Linked DNA regions of Homo sapiens. The protein of the gene in region 5 interacts with the protein of the main gene of each other region in a pairwise test. Each region holds a gene or a part of one and is shown on either strand. Other genes may lie near its edges.

Region 1 (3,811 bases), on a different chromosome or scaffold from region 5:
CTGCACTCCAGTCTGGGCGAGAGAGTAAAACCCTGTCTCAAAAAAAAAAAGGTCCGCAGTCCAGCAGATCACAGTGCACTACAGTGTGGCAAACTGGGGGTGGGTAAAGGTTTCCCAAAGGAGGTGAGGCCTGTGCGACCAATGCAGGCACAAAGGAAAGGAAATGAATGCAAACTTGGACTGTGTGGGAAACTGCCAGAAATCCAGCATGTCAGGGGAACAGTGCAGAGGCCAAAGTGGTTAAGAGGCGAGGCGGGGACCATGCTGGAGGTGCAGGGAGCAACTGGATTATAGACAGCCTTGGAAGCTGTGGTTATGAGATTGGATTTTATCCTCAGGGCAACTGGGAGTCACTTTCAAGCAGGAGAGTGACAAGGCCAGGCACGGTGGCTCACGCCTGCTGTAATCCCAGCACCAGCCTTGTCAACACAGCATGACCTTGTCTCTACTAAAAACTTAAAAAGAAACAATTAGCTGGGTGTGGTGGCACATGTCTGTAGTTCCAGCTACTCAGGAGGCTGAAATGGGAGGATCACCTGGAGCTGGAAGTTAGGGGCTGCAGTGAGCCATGATCATGCCACGGGACTCCAGCCTGGACCATGGAGCAACACTCTGTCTCAAAAAAATAAATAAATAAATAAATAAATAAATAAATAAATAAATAAAATAAAAAAGCAGGAGAGTGATAAGATCATTTTGACTCTGGCTTCAAGATGGAGAATGGGTGTTGGGAGAGGATAGAGACGAGCTGGCAGTCCAGATGGCAAGCTTGGGAAGTAGCACTTGTGATGAGGGGGACAGGTAGAGAAGATGCTAAATTAGTACCTGCAGGCTGAGAGGATGTGACAGAGGAAGAGAGGGAGAGGAAGGGGATTGCTACTGCCTTCTTCCCCTCATCACCTTCATTTTGTCACCAACCCCTTTTCTCTGCCCCAGTGGCTTCCAGCTGGACAGTCCCTTCTAGGATCTCTGATGGGAGTTCACCCACAACCCTGCTCTTCCCCACCCTTTTGCCCCAGTCCTAAGAACTGCCCACTCTTTGTGCCCTGCAGACGGTGCCGGGCTGACCCCCCATCATGCCAGGCTGGCTCACCCTCCCCACACTCTGCCGCTTCCTTCTTTGGGCCTTCACCATCTTCCACAAAGCCCAAGGAGACCCAGGTAAGACCCCAGCCCAGGCCAGAATCTGGGGGAGGCTTGGGGAGACTGCAAGGGTGGGGAAAGGGGAAAGGGCAGTTGTTGCAGGTACCCAGGGACTGAAAGTCATTGCTGAGAAGGCAATGGAGGAGAGGGTTGGGGGGCTCTGGAGAAAGCATTTGGGGAGCAGGGTCTGATGGGCACTTGGGGCAGTGAGGATTGGGGGTTCCTGCCACTGTGGCCCCCTCTGCCCAGCATCCCACCCGGGCCCCCACTACCTCCTGCCCCCCATCCACGAGGTCATTCACTCTCATCGTGGGGCCACGGCCACGCTGCCCTGCGTCCTGGGCACCACGCCTCCCAGCTACAAGGTGCGCTGGAGCAAGGTGGAGCCTGGGGAGCTCCGGGAAACGCTGATCCTCATCACCAACGGACTGCACGCCCGGGGGTATGGGCCCCTGGGAGGGCGCGCCAGGATGCGGAGGGGGCATCGACTAGACGCCTCCCTGGTCATCGCGGGCGTGCGCCTGGAGGACGAGGGCCGGTACCGCTGCGAGCTCATCAACGGCATCGAGGACGAGAGCGTGGCGCTGACCTTGAGCTTGGAGGGTGAGGCCCTTCCGCTCCCGCCCCATTCCTGTGTAGCAGCGGGTCCGCCTCGCCTGGGTCTCCCAGGGCTCCTTCCCAGTATCTCCTCCGCACCCCTGGGGACCCCAGCTCCCTCTCCCAGGCCGCGCCGCCCTTCCTCCCCCTCCGCTCCCATCCGCTGGCCCTCCCCAGGATCCCCGCCACCCCCTAGGTGTGGTGTTTCCGTACCAACCCAGCCGGGGCCGGTACCAGTTCAATTACTACGAGGCGAAGCAGGCGTGCGAGGAGCAGGACGGACGCCTGGCCACCTACTCCCAGCTCTACCAGGGTGAGCGGCCGAACCCAGCACTTCCCAAGCCCCGCGGAGCTGTCTCAGGGGCCCGAGAGAGGGCGCCAGGCGAGCTCAGTCTGGCTCCTGCCTATGACGCCTCTTATCCCCGACCTCCGCCGTCTCCCGCCAGCTTGGACCGAGGGTCTGGACTGGTGTAACGCGGGCTGGCTGCTCGAGGGCTCCGTGCGCTACCCTGTGCTCACCGCACGCGCCCCGTGCGGCGGCCGAGGCCGGCCCGGGATCCGCAGCTACGGACCCCGCGACCGGATGCGCGACCGCTACGACGCCTTCTGCTTCACCTCCGCGCTGGCGGGTGAGGCGCGGGACGAAGGCAGGGTCTTGGGGAGGGGTCTGAAAAATGTGGGGGACGAGGAGTGGACCTCAGCTTGAGATCAGGGCAGGGTCTCCGGGTCCCTCCAAGGCACCGCCCCCCCATCAGCCCGCCCGCCCGCCCAGGCTCCAGCTCACCTCTCCAAACCCTCCCTGCACTTTTGCCTCGATCCCCCAACTCCTCTTACCCAAGCTCGATCCAGCACCTCTGCGGTCCCGCACCCCAACTCCGCCTCCTGGGTGTCAGCCGCCCCTCTCCGCCCACCCTGCCCTCGGTCGGTGACCCGCTGTGGTCCCCAGGCCAAGTGTTCTTCGTGCCCGGGCGGCTGACGCTGTCTGAAGCCCACGCGGCGTGCCGGCGACGCGGCGCCGTGGTGGCCAAGGTTGGGCACCTCTACGCCGCCTGGAAGTTTTCGGGGCTAGACCAGTGCGACGGCGGCTGGCTGGCTGACGGCAGTGTGCGCTTCCCAATCACCACGCCGAGGCCGCGCTGCGGGGGGCTCCCGGATCCCGGAGTGCGCAGTTTCGGCTTCCCCAGGCCCCAACAGGCAGCCTATGGGACCTACTGCTACGCCGAGAATTAGGCGCCCACCGTGTCCCCTCCAGCGCGCGCGAAGAAGCTTGGGAGTCGTGGCGGGGGTCTCTCGCCACCCCTTTCCGGAGAGCCTCCCCTCCCTCCAGACCCGGAGCGGCCTCTCCAGACCTGCCTTCCCAGCCGGGGGCTGCGGGCCTCGGACCCCGGCTGGCCCGGCGGCGGGGAGGGGAGGCGGGGGCGCCTCCGGCGGCGAGATGCAGAGGTGACCCTCGGACCCGCTGCCGTTCGCGAACCCTAGCAGAGGACTCAGCCACCGCCGGGGGGAGGGTGAGGCGGCCGGGGGCATTAACTGACCTCTGAGTACAGCAATAAAATAACCTGGGGATCTTTTGTGTTGGGTGGAGCTGTAAGAGCTGCGAGGCGTGGAGGGGTGTGTGTGTGTGTGTGTGCACGCTCATGTCGGGGCTGATGACCCGGGATCCTGCGTGCCCACTGAGCACCTAAGACAGGGTAAGGGGCAGGGCTGTTGCTGTTAAGGGATGGGTCAGCGGAAGAGCGGGAGTGCGGCCGGAGGGCACCAATAGGCCAAGGGAGAGAGAGAAGTGGAGACGTAGTGGGCGCCTGGCCCAGGACCCACGCAGAACCCAGCATGTTGTTGCGCCAGGCGCCACGCGGGGGCGCCGCACACTCACCTAAGATTAGTTCAAATCTGCCAGGGGCGCCCCATGCCACCAGGCCCACCCTATGTGCCCCAGATAACAAATATAAGACAACTTAAACATATTTCAAAATGTGCAGGCTGCAGACCTCCCTGAAGCGTTTGCGGGGACTACTGTTAAAGATAGGAAAGTCATATTGTTGCTAGAATTGACAGGAAATTAACCTTGCGT
Region 2 (4,041 bases), on a different chromosome or scaffold from region 5:
ATCTGTCCTTTTCACTGCTGGCACACAGTAGTTGCTCAACAAAAATGTGCGAAGTGAAACTCGAACAGGCGGTCAGGCTCACAGTCCACGCCTCTTCCTACTGTGGTCCCGCTGTGTTTGGACAAATAGTTCCAAATTATAAACTTTAAAACCTGAGAAGTCTCAATAGAAAAAGCAGGGAAGTCTTTCCATTTCCATGATTAATGGAGGACCTTAGCAGAAACGGCTCACCGCGAGGTGTGACGACCGCAGGAGGGCGTCAATCAAGAAAATGCCCCCTTGCCCCGGAGGCGAGTGGAGCCGCACAGAGCCGAGGCCATACGGGCCAGCAGTACGGACTGCTTCAATAGAAAACACGTGCAAAACCAGAGAGCCAGACTGCGCACAGCTGCGACCCTCAAGAGCCAGCAGAAAAGACACGGAGCGGCCCCCACTGGATTGAAGACTGCACAGCCTCTGCCCGGCGCTGTAGGACCCGGGCCTCCCCTTGATTGCTGCTCGCAGCGGCTTCTGCCAGCATCCTCGCGGAAGTGGCTTGAGTCCGAGGCCTCCAAATGAAACCAGGTGGAGCGGCCAAGAGTCCGCAGCACCTGAACTCCAGCCATCCGAATCCCGCCGGGCCGCAGCTAAGGGCCGCCGAGCAGCCCTAGGAACCCAGGGCACTGTCCCGCTCTGAGCTCGGGAAACGGCCGGTGTGACAGCCAGCGCCACTGTTAATCCAGGGAGCGCACCCACCGAGGAGGCGTCTTAGGCCAGCGGCCTCTGCTCCCGCCGAGTCCCGCTGCTCCCCGCCTGGAAACAGCTGCTGCCACCCCGGGCCCAGGCCTGGACGGCGCCCCCGAATTTCGGCAGAGGTGCCTCGGGGCCGCGGACAGGGCCGCTGGAGCCCGCACTCCAGAAGGCGGTCTTCCTCGCGCCTCCCCCGACGGACGCGGCCCAGGGCTTCCCTCGAGGGCGTCCTCGGCCGGGGTGCCTGGAGTCCCCAGGGGCGACAGCCGCGGCGGGGCACCAGGGCGCCAGTTCCCCGGAGCCTGGTAGCAAGCGCGTCCCGGGGGCGGGGAGCTTGGCCGGCGGGGCGGGCCGGGGTGGGGGCGGGCGGCTGCTCTTGGGGCCCCGCGCCATTGGCCGCAGGGCCCGGCGGCAGGAAGGGGCCAGCGAGCGCGGCCCCACCCCGCGGCCGGCGGAGCCTATCGCCGGGAGCGCGGAGCGCGGATAAATGTAGCGCCGCGGCGCGGGCCAGCAGCTCTGCGAGGGGCCGGAGCGCGGCGGAGCCATGCAGTACCCGCACCCCGGGCCGGCGGCGGGCGCCGTGGGGGTGCCGCTGTACGCGCCCACGCCGCTGCTGCAACCCGCACACCCGACGCCCTTTTACATCGAGGACATCCTGGGCCGCGGGCCCGCCGCGCCCACGCCCGCCCCCACGCTGCCGTCCCCCAACTCCTCCTTCACCAGCCTCGTGTCCCCCTACCGGACCCCGGTGTACGAGCCCACGCCGATCCATCCAGCCTTCTCGCACCACTCCGCCGCCGCGCTGGCCGCTGCCTACGGACCCGGCGGCTTCGGGGGCCCTCTGTACCCCTTCCCGCGGACGGTGAACGACTACACGCACGCCCTGCTCCGCCACGACCCCCTGGGTAAGGCGGCCGGGCGAGGGTGGGGGCGAGGAAGCGCCACCCGGCAGGTGGCAGCGCCCGGGAGGCCGAGGGGGCGAAGGGGGCAGGCGGTAGACGGCTGTGGCAAAAGCGATGGAAAAGCAGCTGTCGGGCACGCGCGGGGACGGGAGGCGCGCGGCCGGGGCTGACCGCACCGTGACTCAGATTGGTTTTCCTGCACCTTGCAGGCGTCGGGGCGCGCGGGCCGGCGGTAGACCTCGCGGCGAGGGCAGCCGTGGACCGCGCGTGTTACCCGGGGTGGGGCTCCCTTAGCGGGAGGGACGGGGAAAGGGGCGTCGAGGCGCCCCTGGCCGGCCCCCGTGGGGCAGGGATCGCAGCCGGGCCCGGGTGGCTACGGGGCTGGACCTGGTTCAACAGGCTTGTGCAGTGAAAGAGCCTGACCCTTTCCGTTCATACAGGAAATCTTGAGTTCTCGATAGGAGTAAATCTGGTTTCAGAAGCTGTTAAGTGTTTTCCTGGCTGCATGAAGCAGACCCTTCCCCCGGAGTAGTGCACGCTGCTGATTATTTTATCGACATCCTCAATACAGACAAATTCAGGAAACACTCGACTTCTGATAGCCGGGATCCGTTTTTCTGATATTGTTCATTTCCTCTGTGTGGGATGTGACTTTATGGCAGCTAAAATAACCAGTTGCTTCCTATTTTTTTTCGAGGCTGTTTTGCACCAGTCTGAAGCCTGACGCAAGCAAAATCTCGAAAAAACAATGCTAGCTTTCAAAGCGTTGAGGTGCAGGCCTGCAGACGGACGGACGGACCGACCGACACTACTTTGGGAGTAGGAAGCAGCAGCTCCTGGTCGCCAGTTAGGAAGGGAAGCAGGGACACATAGGGCATATATTCCAGAACTTCGGGGCTTGTCCCCTCAATGTGCGGCCTAACAAATAAGCCGCCCGTGGTCCGCGCTGTGGGTGACCCTTGGCGCCTTCGAGGTCTGGAGCCCTAGGGTAAATAAGGAAACGGGGCGCCTCTAGAGTTTTAAATGAACTCTGTTATTGGAAGCTTCAGTAGGGACCCTGAAAACAATTAACGTCTTAATTAGCATTTTAATGTCTCCATTATTACGGCGCGGGCTCTAGCTCAGCCCTTTACCTTACCTTCTCACCGTTAACAGGGGAGGGGGATTGTATTTTTAGTTCATCTTTTTATGTTTTTGAGTTGTTATCCTGTCTGTCTGATTCCAGCCTCGAGGGTTTGATGATGCGGCCCGAGCCTGGCTGTGGTCGCCTGTCGGGGCTGGAGCGGGACCCTCAGCCGGGCCGGGCCTGGGGGCTAACGTTTTCACAGTGCGCCCTGAGTTTCCTTGGGTTACTGCTGGGACCGCGCAGGAGGAAGCAAAGAGTTTTTCGAGCTAGACCAACAGGAAACACATTGACGGAAATGTTGCCATAGCCCATGGGGTGGCTTTAACTGGCCGCCCCCGCGGGCTGGGTGTGAAATCAGAGGAGGCCGCGGCTCCCCCGGCCAGGATTGGAGGCTCCTCGCGCAACCTAATGCGGGTGTCCGGGCCCGAGCGCTTCCCGCGCAGCCAGGCCTTGTCGGTGCAGCAGCCCCGCTCCTCCCCAACACGCACACACCCGGTGTTCGCAAGTGCGGCTCACCAAGGGAGATCCAAGGGGGCAAAAAGTTATGTATAAATCCGAGAGCCACTGGGGAAAGAGGGTCGTGGTATTGTAAGCCCAGCCGGTAGTGCCCATTCTTTTTGGGGTTAAAGGTATGTCTGGATTTAGTTCTAGGTGTGACGGCTGTGTGTCTGTCTGTGTGTGTACAAGGCTGTGTGCATCTGCGGTGTCAGTGTGTGACTTTGGGTATGTTTGTGTGTCGGTGGGAACGTGTTAGGTCCACGTGCCGGTGGGTGTATGTGAATGTGTCTGGTTGGGTGGCCTCCTGGCCTACCTTTGTCATCCCTGGGGCCCGACAGCTCTGGGGTCTGGCCAGGCCGCTCCAGGGCAGTGGGTGAGCGCCGCTCTTCCCGCTCGCAGGCAAACCTCTACTCTGGAGCCCCTTCTTGCAGAGGCCTCTGCATAAAAGGAAAGGCGGCCAGGTGAGATTCTCCAACGACCAGACCATCGAGCTGGAGAAGAAATTCGAGACGCAGAAATATCTCTCTCCGCCCGAGAGGAAGCGTCTGGCCAAGATGCTGCAGCTCAGCGAGAGACAGGTGAGCTCGCGGGGGGCCTGGGGCCGCCTCCGGGGAAGGGAAGGCTTCTGGGGTAGGGGTCGCCGGGCCACCGAGAGAGAGGCGAGGAGCCACCCTGCCCTCTGGCACGTCCCGACGCGGGCTCGTTGCAAGTTTTCTTTCTCTCTTTCCTGTAGGTCAAAACCTGGTTTCAGAATCGACGCGCTAAATGGAGGAGACTAAAACAGGT
Region 3 (3,500 bases), on a different chromosome or scaffold from region 5:
CTGGTGTGCATTCTAGGTGCCATCCCCACTGAAGCTGGAACCCTTCCCGAGTTCCATCTGGACTAGCTGAGACTCTGCACATAGCTGGCTCTTGCTAGTTTTCTCTCCCAACAGTCTGGATCCTTCAACAGGATTTCTACTTCACTGGCTTAGCCTTGATTCAACTTAAGAGTGTCCCTGCTAAGAGACGCTGCAACCTGATAGGCTGTGTATGTTTCCACTGTCTAGGAATTTTTGCCATGTCCAATCCTACCAGATTGGACCATTAGTATATTAATATCAACCTGGTTTGGACCAGAATTTGAAGCTTATGTATAAGAGACCACACATATATCAATTCTTAGGGAACACAAGTTTCATAAAATAATTTATATTACCTGGTAAAGTCACGAGATAGTTCTGAAGAGAAGATCCAATTTGCTACGGCAGCACAATCAACTATTTGTGTACGAATCATCTTATCCACTAGTACAGCAATCATCTACAATGAGAGAATTATTCAAGTAAATCACACACACACATACACACACATATATATGTGCCACCACACTGCTGCTATAAAAGTAAAATAGGAGGGCTATAAAATTTAGTTTTGGTGGCTATGGAATTGATTGATCAATCTGACCATTAGGTCTTTTTTTTGGGAGACAGAGTTGCTCTGTCACCTAGGCGGGAGTGGAGTGGCACGATCTCAGCTCACTGCAACCTCCACCTCCTAGGTTCAAGCAATTCTCCTGCCTCAACCTCCTGAGCAGCTCAGATTACAGGTGTGCACCACCATGCCTGGCTAATTTTTGTAATTTTAGTATAGACGGGGTTTCACTGTATTGCCTAGGCTGGTCTCGAACTCCTGGCTTCAAGTGATCCATCCATCTCGGCCTCCCAAAGTGCTAGGATTACAGGTAAGAGCCACCACGCCTGGCCTGATCATTAGGTCTTAAGATTTATTCTCCCCTTTGCTTTGCTCTAGCACTACAAGAAACAGGTTGACTAAACAAAAACTCTGAATGGTAACAGTTAAAATTTGAAAAAACTGGCCAGGCGCGGTGGCTCACACCTGTAATCTAGCACACTTTGGGAGGCCGAGGTGGGCAGATCACCTGAGGTCAGGAGTTCCAGACCAGCCTGGCCAACATGGTGAAACCCCATCTCTACTAAAAATACAAAAATCAGCCAGGTGTGGTGGTGGACGCCTGTAATCCCAGCTACTCGGGAGGCTGAGGCAGGGGAATCACTTGAACCCGGGAGGCGGAGGTTGCAGTGAGCCAAGATTGCGCCACTGCACTCCAGCCTGGGTGACAGAGTGAGACTCTGTCTCCAAAAAAAAATTTAAATTTCAGGTACTAATACGTATTCAAAAAAATACATAATTTCAATGAACCCCAGAAGTTAAATGTAAAACAATGTTTTATCATTACACACTCACTGTTTTATGAAATTTATTTAAATGTTTCTTTGTCATACACAATATATATCAAGGTTTGAGAAATCTGGAGCTTGCATTTAGAAACTGGATAGACTAGATAAACCTTTTCCTGAACATTTAAAACATATTGAGATATTATAGTTCAAAACCAAATCATAATAATGCTTACTCTTTCAAGAATGAATGAAACATCATTACTCCCATAGCACTGAAAGAATTAGATCTAAAAACCATTATCTAGGCAGAGTCAAATTTCATGTTTTACAAACAAAACAATGGCAATTAACGGCCTTATTTTTATACCCATACAATCAGAGCTTCAACATGTCTAATTAAATAATTTTTACCTGTGGATGGTTCCTCCAGACCTCAAACATAACTCTTAGCACATGTAACTTTCCTTCATCACTTTCAGCTAGGGTTTTGAAGACTTCATGAAACCTTTTGATAATGATGGGAAAAAAATACCATATATACTTATTCATTAAACATTTTAGTGTTTTCAAAGCCTTTTCAATGTTACTCAATTTATAATGCAATATATAAATGCAAAATAACTAAGTATTAACCATTAAGGATGCAAAAAGTGTGATCACAGATTGATAGTTTTTAAGGAAGCTGTCACAAAATCTCAAGACATTTACAATATACTACCGTTAGCCCAGGGCTACAGTTTAAAAGAATAGGTAAGGACTAAGGAACTGTCTTCAAACATGGTGAAATATTCAAACTGCATCTTCTGTGGGAACCCTGCAAGTAATATAAAGCCTTGGAGACAGAGATGGGGTGAGATGTCCAGTTTCTCTGCTTGGCAGAAGGAAAATCTATGTGCTCTTTCTTCCTTTGGACCCTGTCTGACAAGTTAAAAATACCTGTCTTCAGATGCCAACCTTTGCGTGACTCCCAACAGTGTAGCTGATTCTAATTTCTTCTTACATTGCTTTGGAAAGATATTTAGCGTGGGAACTTCCAACTGCATATGACTGTCCCAAAAACCTAGGTTTTTCACTAGTTTCTTTAAATGTCTATATGAAAAAAAGCACTTACCATGTACATATGCCAACTGTACAAACAGACTGACGGAAGCCTTAGGATATGGATTTCAGCTACCACAAACCCAAACCCACTGTGTCCAATTATACACTATTAAGATCTTCATATTCAACAATCTTAGGTAAAAATTACCATACCACTGGTGTTCACCAAGCAAAATTCCAAACTCTCAAGCAAGGCTCTGTACTCATACATACTTTGCAAGAGCACTGAAGGAGTGGCTGAATGATTTGGCTGCCAAGTGTAGCAGAGTCTGTACAAAGACTTCTATTTTCAATGGGTTAAAACTGAATCCTTCATCTGAAAAATATTTTATAGTAAAACAGAAAAATGTAAGCACAGCAATTCCTTGGTGCCTTACCTCAAATGCTAAATAGATGGTTGCTCACATCTATACACAGATATTTGTGTAATGTTTTTTGGTTCTAATAAACAATAAAAGACCGTCACTGATTTCAAACACTGAAAATATGAAACCACTTGTAATTTTAAGTCTTAGTTTTATGTGACTGTCTTAATTCTATCATCCATTCCTTGAAAAAAAAAAATCACACAGGTTTCCTTATTCATAGCCTCTATTATATTAATACCAAAAAAAAAAAAAAAAAACACTTAAGCTTATGTCTTAAGATGTCTGACAACATCTGAATTTAATGCCATCATTTTGGCTTATTCTTTCTAAACTCATTTTCTCTAATATCATAATACAAATTTCTTAGAGATATCCAAACAAAATCCCAGTAATAAATACCCAAAGGCCACTAATATCTTATTTTGATTCAGTAGTTTTTCTATGTGCATATCCATTTATTGATTCAGGCAACTGTATAAATTATTTTGTCAATTTTCCCACTCTTGCCCAGAAAAACTCCTAGGATTCTGGTTGGAATTACATGGTATATAACTGAGTAAATGTTAAACATTATTATTCTAATAGCTTAACTTGGAGAAAACATCCAACTTTATAACACACCAAGTCTTTCTATTCAGGAACTTCTCTATGGTGAAAGCAGGGGTTAAA
Region 4 (3,500 bases), on a different chromosome or scaffold from region 5:
TAGGCACATTGCTGGGTCTTATCATTTGTCATTAATATATCATCATATAATATATTATTTGATCATCTTTTTCTTTTGAATAATAATGATGGAACTTTATTTTTAAAAATACCAACCATGGGAATGGGGAGGGAGACAAATAATCAAGTGTATTTAAAATGCCAGCAAATAAAAGTAAGAACAGTAAGTCAGTTTTGGGACTGGCTGGGTTGTTAGTGTCTTATGCAGAGCAGTTGATTCTTTAAAAAGAGAATTGATTTTCAATGTGAATTTCCTAAATGAGAACCAGCTACCTACCTACATTAAGTTTTATCACCTGGCATGCTTCCTATCAGAATTCTCTCCTCTGATTTTGTCTTTTTTCTTTTTACAATAACCTTTTAACTTTATAATGGTTTTGGATTTACAGAAAAGTTGCAAAGATAGTACAGATGGTTCTCGTATCTCCTGCACCCAGTTTCCCATTTGGTTAGCATCTTACATTGCCATAGGATGTTTATCACAACTAACAAACCTCATGGTTGGTTTTTGTCTTTCAGATTTTCAGAAGTTAAATCCAAAATTGCAAGTAAGTGATGTATTTATTTTACCTTTTTTTTAATAAGTAAAAAAACTACTTGTGTAAAAATAAAACAGCAAAAGGAGAAAAAGCAGGAACAATGTCATCTTCCTACCCTAGTAGGCTACTGCATAGAAGATCCCTGAGTTTGATTTCTCTTCCCTCAAAACAACCATTACCAGTTTTTTTGGATATTCTTGCAGAATAATCTATGGATATACAAGCATAAGACATAAATTCTATATATGTGTGTGTGTACATATGTATGTGTATGTATAGATATTTATATGTACTTCTATCCTCATTTATTTTTAAATAATTGCTACCATACTATATAAATAGCTTTATACCTTGCATTTTTAATTTAATAGTGCATTTTGGAAATCCTGTGCTTTCCATACATCTATCTCTGAATAAGATTCTCTCTTTTTTTTTTTAAGATTATATAAGCATTTCAGTATCTATTTAACTCCTTACATGATTAGTTTGGTTCTTGCCAGTCTTGGATTTTAGTTTAGGTTAGATCATTCTAGGTTTTTGAAAAGACCACTAAATTTGCAGGTTCTGTGGTAGCTGGGGTCACTATTTAGAGTAGGCCACTGCATAGAAGATTCAAAGATTCATCTATATTCCCAAAAAGTCTTAGAATAAGGATGACACAGCTAGTTAGACTTCCTGGGAATATTTTTGATCACAATAGATTGGTCTGAAGTTCAGGTGTTCGTTAAGAACCATACTAGCCTCAAGAATATAGTGAATAGGGCCGGACATGGTGGTTCGCACCTGTAATCCCAGCACTTTGGGAGGCCGAGGCGGGTGGATCACCTGAGGTCAGGAGTTCGAGACCAGCTTGGCCAACATAGTGAAACCCCGTCTCTATTAAAAATACAAAAATTAGCTGGGTGTGGTAATGGGTGTCTATAATCCTAGCTACTCAGGAGGCTGAGGCAGGAGAATCGCTTGAACCCAGCAGGTGGAGGTTGCAGTGAGCCGAGATCGCGCCACTGCACTTTGACTGGGTGACACAGAGAAACTCTGTCTCGAAAAAAAAAAAAAAAAGAAAATGAAAAAAATATAAATACTGCATATTATCAGGATGAGATTTGGTGTTCAGTCATCAGTCCACTATTGTTCTAGGTAGAGGCATCAGAACTCTAGTAAAGAGTTCTGTAGTCCTCTTCACCCTTTCCATGTGTAGGATTTTTCATGTGTGTTGCTATCAGAAATAGCATCTGGAGGATTTTTTCCAGTCAGCTACTGGTTTAAGTAACAATGGCATATGACAGTCAGACCCTGGAAAGCTCAGTAATTTTGCCAGTTTGGAAGTTTTTTGTCTTGAAAATATAGATTTATATGCCACAGTATATTACAGGGGCTGGGTTCACGGCCTATAATCTCATTTGTTTTTGTAATTCCTTCAAAAGAAAGCTATATTCATAGTCATTATATTTGTAAATAATGTAGATACTCTTAAATAACGTGGATGCCTTGTATGCCTCAGTGTAGCTGAATGACTTTATTTTTAGGTAAATACCATGATTTAGAATGCCAGCTGATTCAGGAGTTTACCAGTGCTCAAAGAAGAGGTGAAATCTCCAGAATGAGAGAAGTAGCAGCAGTTTTACTTCATTTTAAGGTAAATAGTAGGAATTAAAAATGAATAGTGTTCAAGGCTATGGAAATTACGTAAGTTCTATATATTATAGTCTCTGATTTCCCCCATTCATTATGTAACTATCACAGTGATAATTTTCACTGTTTTGAGTAATTTGTACATTTGATACTCTGTAAATGGTATTGAATGTTATATATTTAATATTTAAGGTTTTATATTCAATAATATTAATATTGAATTAAAATTAATTGATCAATTAAATATTGATGAATTTTTATACTTTGATAAAGAAAATCATATTGTCTGCCTTTTTGCTTCCACATATTATAATATAGGTGAAAAGAAAGAAAACGTGACCGTAAATATCTGTAGGATATAGGAACCAGAGAGTAGATGGAACATGACTAGTAAGAGACTTAAATCCAGGGGACCTCAGGAGGTAATACAAAAGAATTTTGTATTACGGAATTGTTTACCTAGAATTTGAACTCGGGAGAGAATCCCTGTGTAGGAGTATATTTCTGCAAAGAAAGTGCTTAAAGAAATGGTTCTTCCTTCAATCTGTTTCTTTGATTTGTATCAGATTAGGGAAGGGGAAGCTATTTGTTGGACTTTTCATTTTGGTAAAATCTGAATGAGTATTGAGAATGGCTCTTGAGACAGTAGTGCACTTTATATTGCTTTCCTTACTGGTTTTTATGTATGATTTATTAATAGGCAAAAATCTCATTATGGTGAGCTTAATGACAAATCAGTTTGTTTTAAACACATTTTATTAAAATACATTTAGTTTAAAAAGTAAATTTCCAAACTACCAGCTGAATACAACTGTCCAGATTCTTGCAAGGAAAACCAAATGCTAGAGAAGGCCAGGCGCAATGGCTCACTCCTGTAATCCTAGTATTTTGGGAGGCCGAGGCGGGTGGATCAGTTTAGCTCAGGAGTTCGAGATCAGCTTAGGCAACATGGTGAGACCCTGTCTCTACAGAAAATACAAAAATTAGCCGGAGGGGAGGCATGTGCCTGTAGTCCCAGCTACTCGGGAGGCTACAGCAGGAGGATCGCATGAGCCTGGGAGGCAGAGGTTGTAGTTAGCCAAGATGACACCATTGCATTCCAGCCTGGGTGACAGGAGTGAAATCCTGTCTCAAAAAAAAAAAAAGAAATATATATATACACATATATATATATATACACACACACACACACACACACACACACGTATATATACACACTTTAATATATATAAATATATTTATATGTATATAAAACACATACATATATATATGTAAAACCTTTTCCCAAGACCTTGACTCTCTGTGTATG
Region 5 (2,425 bases):
GTGAAAGTTATGTTCCTGGGACTAAAAAGAGAAGGGGCTGAAGGCCTTCAAGAACAGCTCCCTCTGTGCCCGGGGCCAACGTGCCTGGGCTGTGGACCCCTGCTCGGCCGGGGTTGCCATGTTGAGGGGAGTGTCATGGGCAGCAGTGGCTTCCCCAGGCCCCACTTGCACCCACAAGCCACAAGCCTGTCTTCCTGGGCTCCCACCATGGCCTCTCCAACAGATCCATCACCAGCTTCCTGTTTCCAAACTGAGTCCTCCGAATATTCCTGGGTGTACCCCCAACCTCACCTTTGCCCACGCACTTGCCCTGGCCTGGCCACTGCTGCCCAGCCATGGACCTGCTCAACCCTCCGCCCCCAAGAAGCCTGCTCTCCCCATTGCAGCCCTGCTGAGCCCCTTCTTGCCCCTGCCACATCCTCCTGCACCCCTGTGTCCTCTGTCCAGGTGTGAATGTGTCTCCTTGGCAGTCTGGGAGCTCCTAGCAACTGGGGCCAGGCCTCTTCTCCAACTATAGCTGAAGCCTCGGCTGAGTTGGGGAGCTCCACATCCAGGCTCCTTCCCTTGTTCCTTTGCCTCCTCTGAACTGAGCACTCGGACACTGGAGCAGGAGAAAAAGAGAACGGGACCCCAGCACACCAAGGAGAACAGAACGCACTCCTTTATTCCCTGGGAGACGACAGGCTCCCTCTCGGGGCTGGGGGACGCTTGGTTCTGGGCCCTAGCAAGGTGGGGACAGTGCTGGGGGCACTGCTGGCTCCACTGGCAGGGCAGGTCCGAAGGGGCTCCTGGCCCTTCCTCAAAGCTTCTCCAGGTAGGAACCAGGGACGAAGCCACGCTGCCCGTTCCTCTCCACAGTCCACCAGCCATCCTCCCCTTCCAGGATCACCTCCAGGATGTCTCCCGCGGACAGGTCCAGCTCATCTGGGTTCTGGCCAAGAGATTGAAAGCGCATGACGTTGGAAGGGCCTGCAGGGAAGGGCCTGCAGGGAGGGGCCTGGCGTTCCCCCACCCAGCAGTAAATGCGGCATGTCTCCCAGGGTGGGCAGGGGCAGCCCCTTGGGGACACAGGATGGGGGTAACCCAACGGACCGGGCCTCCCATCCCCCTCAGTTTGTCATCATAGTTCTCCCCCAACCTGGGTTTCTTCCCAGCCTCACCTCCCCTCTCCCATTCTGGAGACGCAGTGACTGGAGCATGTCAGGGGTCACGGGTGCTCATCATACCCCAAGCCCAGGGCACACTCATGCCTAAGCTTACCACAAGCCTCCCCTTTGCGGTCCCCAGCCCCAGCTAGCCACTGCCATCCAAGTACCCCATCACTCTCCTGGCCTGGCTTCCCTGCCTCCCCGAGCCCTGGCCTCATCAGTGGAGTCCACACCCAGCCTGCCTGGCTATGTGGGGGTGCTTGGCCTCAGTCCAGGTGGATGTGAGGTCTGGCTATGCATTCTTCCCCTCAAGCAGGGAGCAGAAAGGACTCTCATAGCTGCCCTGTGGCTGCCTTGGTTCATCCTCACCCTATGGACATCAGAAAATCAATCCTGGCACGATAGCAAGACTCATTCTGGCCACAGTTTTCCACACCCATGGCCACGAAGGACAGGGCCCTGACCCAAAGGCACAGAGCCTGGCCCTCAAGCTATGACCTGCAGGCAGCTCCAGGCTCTGCCAGCTCCCCGCACGTGTGCACCACTCAGCGCCCAGCCTGTGTGGACGGCATAGGTACATGTGCTCCACGTGTGTGCTGTGTACAGGCCCGGGCAGACACAGGCCTGCTGCACACCAGCTTCCAGTCAGTACATGCACACTGAGGCCCCGCAAGCCCTGGGTGCTGTTCTCAGAGCTCACATCCAAGCACACTCCCAGGTACCCTTGCTAGTGTGGACACACTCGGGCACACGTGCCCTCCTGAGGAGGAGAGGATGCTCGAAGATGAGTGAAACCATGAGGAGAGATGAGGACGCAAGGCACTGGATGGGAGAGGGAGCTCTCAGGTGCAGGGGAGGTGGCACAGGTGGGTTTGGGGTATAGAGGCCTCACCTGCGCTGTATAATCGTAGAGCGCCCGGTACTCCTGGGCTGGTGAGGCCGGGTTTCCCTGTATCTCCTGCACTGCGATGGCTGTGTAGACACCCTCATTCCGCTCGGGGGTGGGGGTCAGGGTCTCTGTGGACGCTAAGAGCAGGGTGAGACATAGACCCCTCCCCTTCTGGGGACACTGGCCCCTGGAAGTCCTACTAGAATGGGGTTTCTCCATGCTGGGCCCTGCCTCTTCCTTCTGCTGTCCACACTTGCTGTTGGGGGACACACACTTCCTCTTGAGGGCCTCAGTGGCCCCATCTGTGCCATGTGGGAGACCTCTCCTCCCCCCCAGGATCAGTGTGTTTGGGGGTCCCCTCCTGACCCCCTTTACCAGCAGAAGCTGC
Region 6 (3,500 bases), on a different chromosome or scaffold from region 5:
CCTCCACACGCACCTCTGCCGCTTCTGCTGCTGTTGTTGGCACTTCTGCTGCAGCTGCTGGTGGCGCTGGGCAGCAGCTGCTAGGAGCTCCTCAGCCTTCCTGTGCTCTTCCTGAAACAGCTGCCTGGGGGGCCCAGTAGGGGGTGGTCAGCACCGGCCACTCCCTCCTCCCACCCTCTTCCCCTCCACATCTTACACTGTGGCTGCAGCCTCCTGGCTGCGGAGAAAGAGTCCCTCATCAAGGGTGGAGGGGCCCTCAGCCCCACACAGGGAGCACAGCTGATGCTTCACGTCTTCCAGTGTCGCCTTGACCAGCTTCTCTGCAGCACAAAGGGGCAGGTGAGCACATGAAGGCACGTGAGGTCAGATATGGGCCATCCACCTTCCCTGGTCTCACCTTCCTTGAGCAGCTGCTCCTTGCTGCTGTCCAGGGCACAAATCTCCTTTGCCAGCCGCTCTGGCATCTGAGGGGCAGAAAAGAGGCCTGTCCACTCCTCTTGGCTTTCCCCCATGCCTCAAAGAAGGCTATCTGGATCTTGTTTCATACTTACTCACTATGCCTCACTTCCAACAACTCTGCCCCTCTGTGCACACCAGCTACAGTACAGCCTCAGGGCCATGGCACTGGCCATTCCCTCCCTGTGCACTTCTGTCATCCCACATCTCTGCGGTACTGCAGTGGGGATGCTCATGGATTGTTATTTACAACAGATAAACCTGCAAGCACTGTGAGTCTTGGCTGTTTTCTGGAGGATCAGGTACCGGTTTAGCTCTGCAGCTCCTCCCCACTCCCCTCTGTCCTGGTGTGACCTCCTCACTGAGCCCTTCCTTCCTGACACTCACTGTCTATTTTCTTGTTCAGTGCCTAGGATCCTCCTGGGGGACAAACACGGGCTGCTTATCCTCGTTGTCTCCTTTGTGCCCGTGATGGTCCCAGACACATCCACGGACAGTGATGGAAGACTTGACCTTGGTCTCATCAGAGATCCCCCTGACCACTGAGCAGCAGGGTCACAAGGAGGTGACAAGGGACTGGATTCAGGCAATGTCGATCTTAGCACCACCAGGGCTTGCTTGGCGACTGGTTGTGGCAGGTGAGAGGAAGAAGTGACCGTTTGGGCCTGGTGCTGCTAGGGAAGATGTGGAAGGGGGAGGAGTGGCTTTGAGGGACTCACGTGGAAGTCCCAGAGGTCCTTGTGCTGGCCCATCAGATCTTCCAGCTGTTCCTCGAATGCCAACCTGGGAACCAACCACAGGCATGAGGGGATATGGGCTGAAATCACCACCTTCACAGCCTGTCCAAGTCTGTGGTTCTTCAGGCAGATTTTGGGGTGCTTTGCCCATGGTCTCTGCTCCACTGGGAACATCTTCACCACCTTGAATCTCCATGGCTCAGTGTAGCCAGCTTTTCTAACCCCCATCTTTGACATTATATCCCAACTACTGGCCATCCAAACCCCCTGCCTCAGATGCTAAGGTTTACCTCAGCTGTCTCTGTTTGTTCTTCTCTTCTTCAATCTGCAAGTTCAGGGCAGAAATTCTCTCCTTGCACTCCTGCAACATGGTGTGCTTCCTGGGAGAGGCGAGGCAGCCCTCAGCCATGTTCTCTTAAGCCCCAGGAGGGCACTGGGCTGGGGCTTCTGCCTCCCTCTATTGAGGCTATTTTTTCCCTCTACATTAAGGTCCTTCTCTGTAACATGTGGTAAGTAGGGAGTGACATGACCATTTGCCCCCTGGAAGTATTGTTGTCAGGTTAAGAGAGATTAATGTGGACATGGTTAAGTGAGCAAATGCACACACATCTTAGTATCATCTCGTTTTCCCAAAGAGCTGAAATCTCAGTGTGCCAGGGCCTGGGGCCTCTGGTAACAAATGAGCTAAATCAGGAGGTGGAGAAATGGATGGACAAATCGATGGGTGGATGAAAAGATAATGGATGAATGGAGAGAGAATGGACAAATGGTTGGCTCAATGCCTAAATGAACAGACAGATGAGTGAATAGACATCCAAGGAGTATGACAAAGAGTAAAAGGCAAAAAATAAAAACCAGCTGAAGAAATTTAATTGACAATTTAGCAAATGAATGTCTTGCCATTGAGAGAGTTTCCCTTAACACTACTGCCAGCTGTTGGAGCCGAAGGGGAAAGACATTCTTTGGACTCTCCATTGTTTAGAGGGAAACAATGAGAGCTGTGGGTCTCAGATTCATCTTCCTGCCTCTTTCTGCTCTACCAGAATAAAGAGGTAGTGCAGAGTTAGGCTCAGCTGGAAGCTCTTACCTGTGTGCCTCACTTTCCTTTTCCTGGCAATGCAGCCGGAGGATCCTCAGGGTCTCTGTAGGGAGAGCAACAGGGCCCTATGAGAACCTGTCAAGGTATTGGGTTTTGGCAGGGGGAACACAGCCAGATCATGTCAGGTCTGTGGACACCTGATTGAGCTTTAACATTTACTACATGTCTGGTGGAAGCCACAGGAGAGAGGCAAGCTGGGACAGGTTTCAAAAGGCTTCAGCTGCCATAGGGAGAGTGGGCTTCTGTGGGTTGGCAAAGGCACAAGCCTGGAGACAGGGGAGCGGCAAATACCTTGTTTTTTGCTCAAGATCTCCTTCAGGTGTACTTTCTCTCCATGCACTAGAAAACAGTGACACATTTTGGCATCAGGGACTATGCACTGCACCCTCAGGGATGGGGCTTGCTCACGGTCACATGGGAAGCTGGGCACAGCCTTGGCCCCAACCCAAATGTGAACCCTTGAGGTGAGCCCCTCCCTACCCTCTGGTGCCCACATTCCTTGTAAGCACCAAAGGGCCTTCACATTTACAGAGGGTGGCTGTGAGGGCCCTGGAGGATGCTCGTGCTTTTACATGGGGAGGAGAGAAAAAATACCAACACCCACGAAGTGGGATAAGGGCTATAAAGAAACACATCAAATAGGATGGGGCATGTGACCAGATGGAGGCAGGGTGCCATCTTTAAATGGGATGATTGGGGAATGCCAGTCATCCTGTCTGGGGACATTCTAACTTAGAGCTGATGATGTGAGGAAAGAGGAACCTGTATTATCTGAGGAAGCACAGACAGCGTCTGGCAAAAGCCCTGAGGTGGGAATGAGGTTGGAGGGTGTTTCCTGAACACTCCCACAAGCAGAGAGGAGAGGGGGAGATTGGCAGGACATGAGGCTAGAGAGGGTACAGGACCCTTGGCCATGGCAAGGATGCTGATTATCTGGAATACAGGGTTAGGGGAGGCTTAAGACACTGTGGGGACCTCTGGGTGACCCCCGGCTCTCTTACGCGAGTCCAGTTCCTTCTGCAGGGCCTCACAGATGGTCCGGGCCTCTCCTAGGTCTTTATTGGCTTTCTTTTTTGCTTCACCAAAGAGCAGAAAAACATTGTGTGAGTGCAGCCTCTATTCTCTTCCCAACAGTGACATTTCTCATTTGCCTTCAGGTAAATCTATAGTGGCCTAGATTTTATAGAGTAGGAAACGAGGCTTCCAGC
Region 7 (3,500 bases), on a different chromosome or scaffold from region 5:
CAAGTCCATTTTATTTGAAATTTTCCACATGCCACACATGTACATGAAAATTCCCATCCAGAATGTAGTTTGCTACAGTGAACACCAATGTCAGGAGCAGGCATCACCGTGAGACGCCACGGGGGCAGGTCAGCGGGACGGGGACAGGGAGGTTGGTCATCGAAAGGCAGGTGATGCATGTCGTGTCATTTAGCACCTGGTCATGAGATACGGCGAGACCCCCAGGTCCAGGGAAAGGTCTCCCCTTAAAACCACGTGGAGCTCTGCTGTCTCTGGGCAGTCTCACGTGGACAGACAATGCTCAGAAGGTGGCGAAGGGGCTGGAGGGAGATACCACCGACGGCTGCAGGGGAGGGGCACGCACACACACAGGCACGCACATGCTTGCCCATGAACACCCCCCGGGCACACACACACCCTTGCACACTCCCCACCCTCCCTCCACCCCAGACACATCAGCACAGCGGTCCAGGCTCTGGCTCACTCCCCGGGAGGCTTCTGTGGCCAGGGTTCCCATGGCGGGTCTGGTGGCAACAGCTTGGAGAAAAGCCTCCCGGGACCAACCCTCATTCCCAGGTCCACTGATCTGGGGTAGGAGTAGCCAAGTGTTCTGACAGGCGGTTTTCCCGTAAACCGACCCCTTCAGCGTTTCTGCTTTTTGTTGTTTGTTTTCTGAGACAGGGTATTGCTCCGTGGCCCAGAGTGGAGGGCAATGGTGCGATCTTGGCTCACTGCAACATCCAACTCCTGGGCTCAAGCAATCCTCCTGCCTCAGCCTCCTGAGTAGCTGGGACCACAGGCACATGTACAATGCCCAGCTAACTTTTTTTTTTATTTTATGTAGCGATACAGTCTCACTATGTTGCCCAGGCTGGTCTCGAACTCCTGGGCTCAAGCGATCCTCCTGCCCCAGCCTCCCAAAGTGCTGGGATGACAGGCGTGAACCACCACGCCCGGCCCCTCCCATGTTTCTCAAAGGAGCTTTAGAGAGCAGAGGAGCCCGAGTCACTGCCACCACTGGGTTCCTCAGTGTCTGTGGGGTTTGTGTTCATCATGCCCAGTAGATCTAGAAACTTCTTTTGTTTTTTTTTTTTTTGAGACGGAGTCTCACTCTGTCGCCCAGGCTGGAATGCAGTGGTGCGATCTCAGCTCACTGCAAGCTCCGCCTCCCAGGTTCATGCCATTCTCCTGCCTCAGCCTCCTGAGTGGCTGGGACCACAGGCGCCCGCCACCACACCCGACTACTTTTTTGTATTTTTAGTAGAGACGGGGTTTCACTGTGTTAGCCAGGACGGTCTCGATCTCCTGACCTCATGATCCGCCTGCCTCAGCCTCCTAAAGTGCTGGGATTACAGGCGTGAGCCACTGCGCCCGGCCAGATCTAGAAACTTCTAACTTGAATCCCACACCCCCAAGTGCAAATGAGACCCATGACCATCACAAAGACCCCCCAGCGTCGTGGTCAAGGCTACCAGGAACTGGCAGCAGCGCTCTGCCCACGTCCACAGGAAGTGGCCGACGTCTCCTCTGCCTTTGGTTTAGTGGCCCCACACTTCATCACCTCACTTTGTCCATGAATTTCACACGTTTTCTTACAAGAGCTCTGTAATGCGCCAGGCACGGTGGCTCACACCTGTTATCCTAGCACTTTGGGAGGCCGAGGCAGGAGAATCACTTGAGGTCAGGAGTTCAAGGCCAGCCTGACCAACATGGTGCAACCCCATCTCTGCAAAAATACAAAAATTAGCCGGTCATGATGGCAGGTGCCTGTAATCCCAGCTACTCAGGAGGCTGATGTGGGAGAATCGCTTGAACCTGTGAGGTGGAGGTTGTAGTGAGTGAGCTGAGATCGTGCCACTGCACTCCAGCCTGGGGGACAAAGCAAGACTCCCTCTCAAAAAAAAAAAAAAGGCTCTGTAATTTTCAGATCCTAAAAGGAGCAGATAACAGGGGAAGAGGAGGTGGGAGGCTGCCACAGCGCTGCCTGCTGGGGGATCAAGGTCCCCGCATCCAGGCCTCCAGCACCCTCCATCCCTGCAGGAGCACTGCTGGCACCGCCAAGGCCGGAGCACTGGTCTGGAGCTTCATTGGCCGGCAGGGGCCCAGCCCTCAGCTGTTGGAGCCCTACGGCTCTAGGTCTGGCCCCTCCACAAGCCCTCCAGGCCCACGCCTGAGCCCAGCCCCGGTCCCCTGGGTCCAACGGCCTGTGGCTCTGGGTCCGGACCCAGGGTGTGGTTGAGGGAGGGCGCTGCTGAGCTGGCAGGCAACCCTTGTGTGTTTGCAGCGCAAGAGGAGCTCAGCCCGTCCTGGCTGCCGTCCTGGGTCGAAGCAGCAAGTGTCTTCCCGCCCTGTGCACAGACAGGTCCCAGGAGGGCCTCTTGGAGAAGAAACCGCTCAGGCCCATGTCCTGGCAGGGCCTCTGGGGGCAGCAGATGGCAAGGATAGAGCCCGCCCCCTCTGCTGCAGAAGGAAGCGGCCCTCACCCAGCCCCCCTGGGCTGGACGGGCCGTTGAAAACAAGAAAAGCCTTCCATAGCAGAAAGGAGTACTCAAGGCCCAGAAAGGCAGCTTTGCTCTGGGTCATCAGGCTCAAGTGCCTGCTCTGGGCCACCTTCGGAAGCCTGGTGGAGCCGAGTGTTGCCTGGTGACGTGGAGCAGGAGGCGGGGCGGAGGCTGCGGGACACGGGGCTGCAGGGCCGGGAAGGGGGTCAGGAGAATAAATAGCAGCTAGGTGTGGGGTGAGCTGGGAGCACAGGCAGGAGGGGGCAGCCAGAGAGGTTGGGGCTCTCCCTTTTAAAGAACAAAGGGATACATACCCTTTCCCCTCCTCCCTCCCTCCAACCCCACAGTCTCTCCCTCACATACACACACGGAAGACGTGACTCACACACACATGCACACACAGGGCACAGGTACACGAAGGCACACGTGCACACACAGGGCACAGGTACACGCAGGCACATGTACACACAGGCACACGTGCACGCAGGCACACGCATGCAGGCACATGTGCACACACAGGGCACAGGTACCCGCAGGCACACGTGCACGCAGGCACACGCACGCAGGCACGGGGACAAGTGCTGACCACGCTCCTCCAGCAGGCAGCATATGGTCTGCTGCTTAACAGCCGAGCTCTGCCAATTGGGGACCATTAGGGTGGGTTCTTTTCCCAGCATCAAATGCTGCAGAATATAAATTGCAACTAACGCTGGTGCCAAAATAGCACTTAGAGAAAATAAGCACGTTATTAACATCTGGTGAAGCCCATCTCGGGGGTAGCAGCAGCGGAAATTCTTGCTCTAAGTCAGAGGATGGTTGCAGGGGACACTAAAAATACAAGGTCCACTGTTTCAGGGGTGCTTTCCAAGGCACTGCACCCCAGCCTCAGGAACAGCCCTTCCCCCAGTCCTGTCTATGAGTATAAATTATGCTGCTGGTTAAAACCGCTTGCTCATGAGAACAGGACACCCAGGCGCGATCGTACACACGCTAGGATGC

The links.
Region 1: the proteins of PSTPIP1 (region 5) and HAPLN2 interact in binary tests that used the Homo sapiens proteins (3 or more experiments, as listed by UniProt).
Region 2: the proteins of PSTPIP1 (region 5) and HHEX interact in binary tests that used the Homo sapiens proteins (3 or more experiments, as listed by UniProt).
Region 3: the proteins of PSTPIP1 (region 5) and NCBP1 interact in binary tests that used the Homo sapiens proteins (3 or more experiments, as listed by UniProt).
Region 4: the proteins of PSTPIP1 (region 5) and EXOC5 interact in a two-hybrid assay, tested with the Homo sapiens proteins (one large-scale study listed by BioGRID).
Region 6: the proteins of PSTPIP1 (region 5) and SYCE1 interact in a two-hybrid assay, tested with the Homo sapiens proteins (one large-scale study listed by BioGRID).
Region 7: the proteins of PSTPIP1 (region 5) and FBXL18 interact in a two-hybrid assay, tested with the Homo sapiens proteins (one large-scale study listed by BioGRID).

The regions. Positions count from the first base shown.
Region 1 is NC_000001.11:156,622,415-156,626,225, forward strand, and holds the end of HAPLN2 (hyaluronan and proteoglycan link protein 2 precursor), read left to right. Parts: intron 1-1,052; coding exon of another isoform or gene 1,053-1,076; coding exon 1,077-1,161; intron 1,162-1,392; coding exon 1,393-1,746; coding exon of another isoform or gene 1,747-1,750; exon of another isoform or gene 1,751-1,883; intron 1,884-1,936; coding exon 1,937-2,053; intron 2,054-2,186; coding exon 2,187-2,369; intron 2,370-2,686; coding exon 2,687-2,970; 3' UTR 2,971-3,311; downstream 3,312-3,811. UniProt on the Homo sapiens protein: Mediates a firm binding of versican V2 to hyaluronic acid. May play a pivotal role in the formation of the hyaluronan-associated matrix in the central nervous system (CNS) which facilitates neuronal conduction and general structural stabilization.
Region 2 is NC_000010.11:92,688,714-92,692,754, forward strand, and holds the start of HHEX (hematopoietically-expressed homeobox protein HHEX), read left to right. Parts: upstream 1-1,241; 5' UTR 1,242-1,273; coding exon 1,274-1,634; intron 1,635-3,654; coding exon 3,655-3,833; intron 3,834-3,988; coding exon 3,989-4,039; intron 4,040-4,041. UniProt on the Homo sapiens protein: Recognizes the DNA sequence 5'-ATTAA-3'. Transcriptional repressor. Activator of WNT-mediated transcription in conjunction with CTNNB1.
Region 3 is NC_000009.12:97,661,321-97,664,820, reverse strand, and holds part of NCBP1 (nuclear cap-binding protein subunit 1), read right to left. Parts: intron 2,780-3,500; coding exon 2,677-2,779; intron 1,868-2,676; coding exon 1,774-1,867; intron 482-1,773; coding exon 378-481; intron 1-377. UniProt on the Homo sapiens protein: Component of the cap-binding complex (CBC), which binds cotranscriptionally to the 5'-cap of pre-mRNAs and is involved in various processes such as pre-mRNA splicing, translation regulation, nonsense-mediated mRNA decay, RNA-mediated gene silencing (RNAi) by microRNAs (miRNAs) and mRNA export.
Region 4 is NC_000014.9:57,234,406-57,237,905, reverse strand, and holds part of EXOC5 (exocyst complex component 5), read left to right. Parts: intron 1-539; coding exon 540-568; intron 569-2,085; coding exon 2,086-2,195; intron 2,196-3,500. UniProt on the Homo sapiens protein: Component of the exocyst complex involved in the docking of exocytic vesicles with fusion sites on the plasma membrane.
Region 5 is NC_000015.10:77,035,551-77,037,975, reverse strand, and holds the end of PSTPIP1 (proline-serine-threonine phosphatase-interacting protein 1), read right to left. Parts: coding exon 2,413-2,425; intron 2,175-2,412; coding exon 2,041-2,174; intron 932-2,040; coding exon 800-931; 3' UTR 501-799; downstream 1-500. UniProt on the Homo sapiens protein: Involved in regulation of the actin cytoskeleton. May regulate WAS actin-bundling activity. Bridges the interaction between ABL1 and PTPN18 leading to ABL1 dephosphorylation.
Region 6 is NC_000010.11:133,555,584-133,559,083, forward strand, and holds part of SYCE1 (synaptonemal complex central element protein 1), read right to left. Parts: intron 3,369-3,500; coding exon 3,294-3,368; intron 2,632-3,293; coding exon 2,584-2,631; intron 2,336-2,583; coding exon 2,281-2,335; intron 1,574-2,280; coding exon 1,484-1,573; intron 1,240-1,483; coding exon 1,176-1,239; intron 465-1,175; coding exon 398-464; intron 321-397; coding exon 197-320; intron 125-196; coding exon 14-124; intron 1-13. UniProt on the Homo sapiens protein: Major component of the transverse central element of synaptonemal complexes (SCS), formed between homologous chromosomes during meiotic prophase. Requires SYCP1 in order to be incorporated into the central element.
Region 7 is NC_000007.14:5,475,810-5,479,309, forward strand, and holds part of FBXL18 (F-box/LRR-repeat protein 18), read right to left. Parts: 3' UTR 1-3,500. UniProt on the Homo sapiens protein: Substrate-recognition component of the SCF (SKP1-CUL1-F-box protein)-type E3 ubiquitin ligase complex.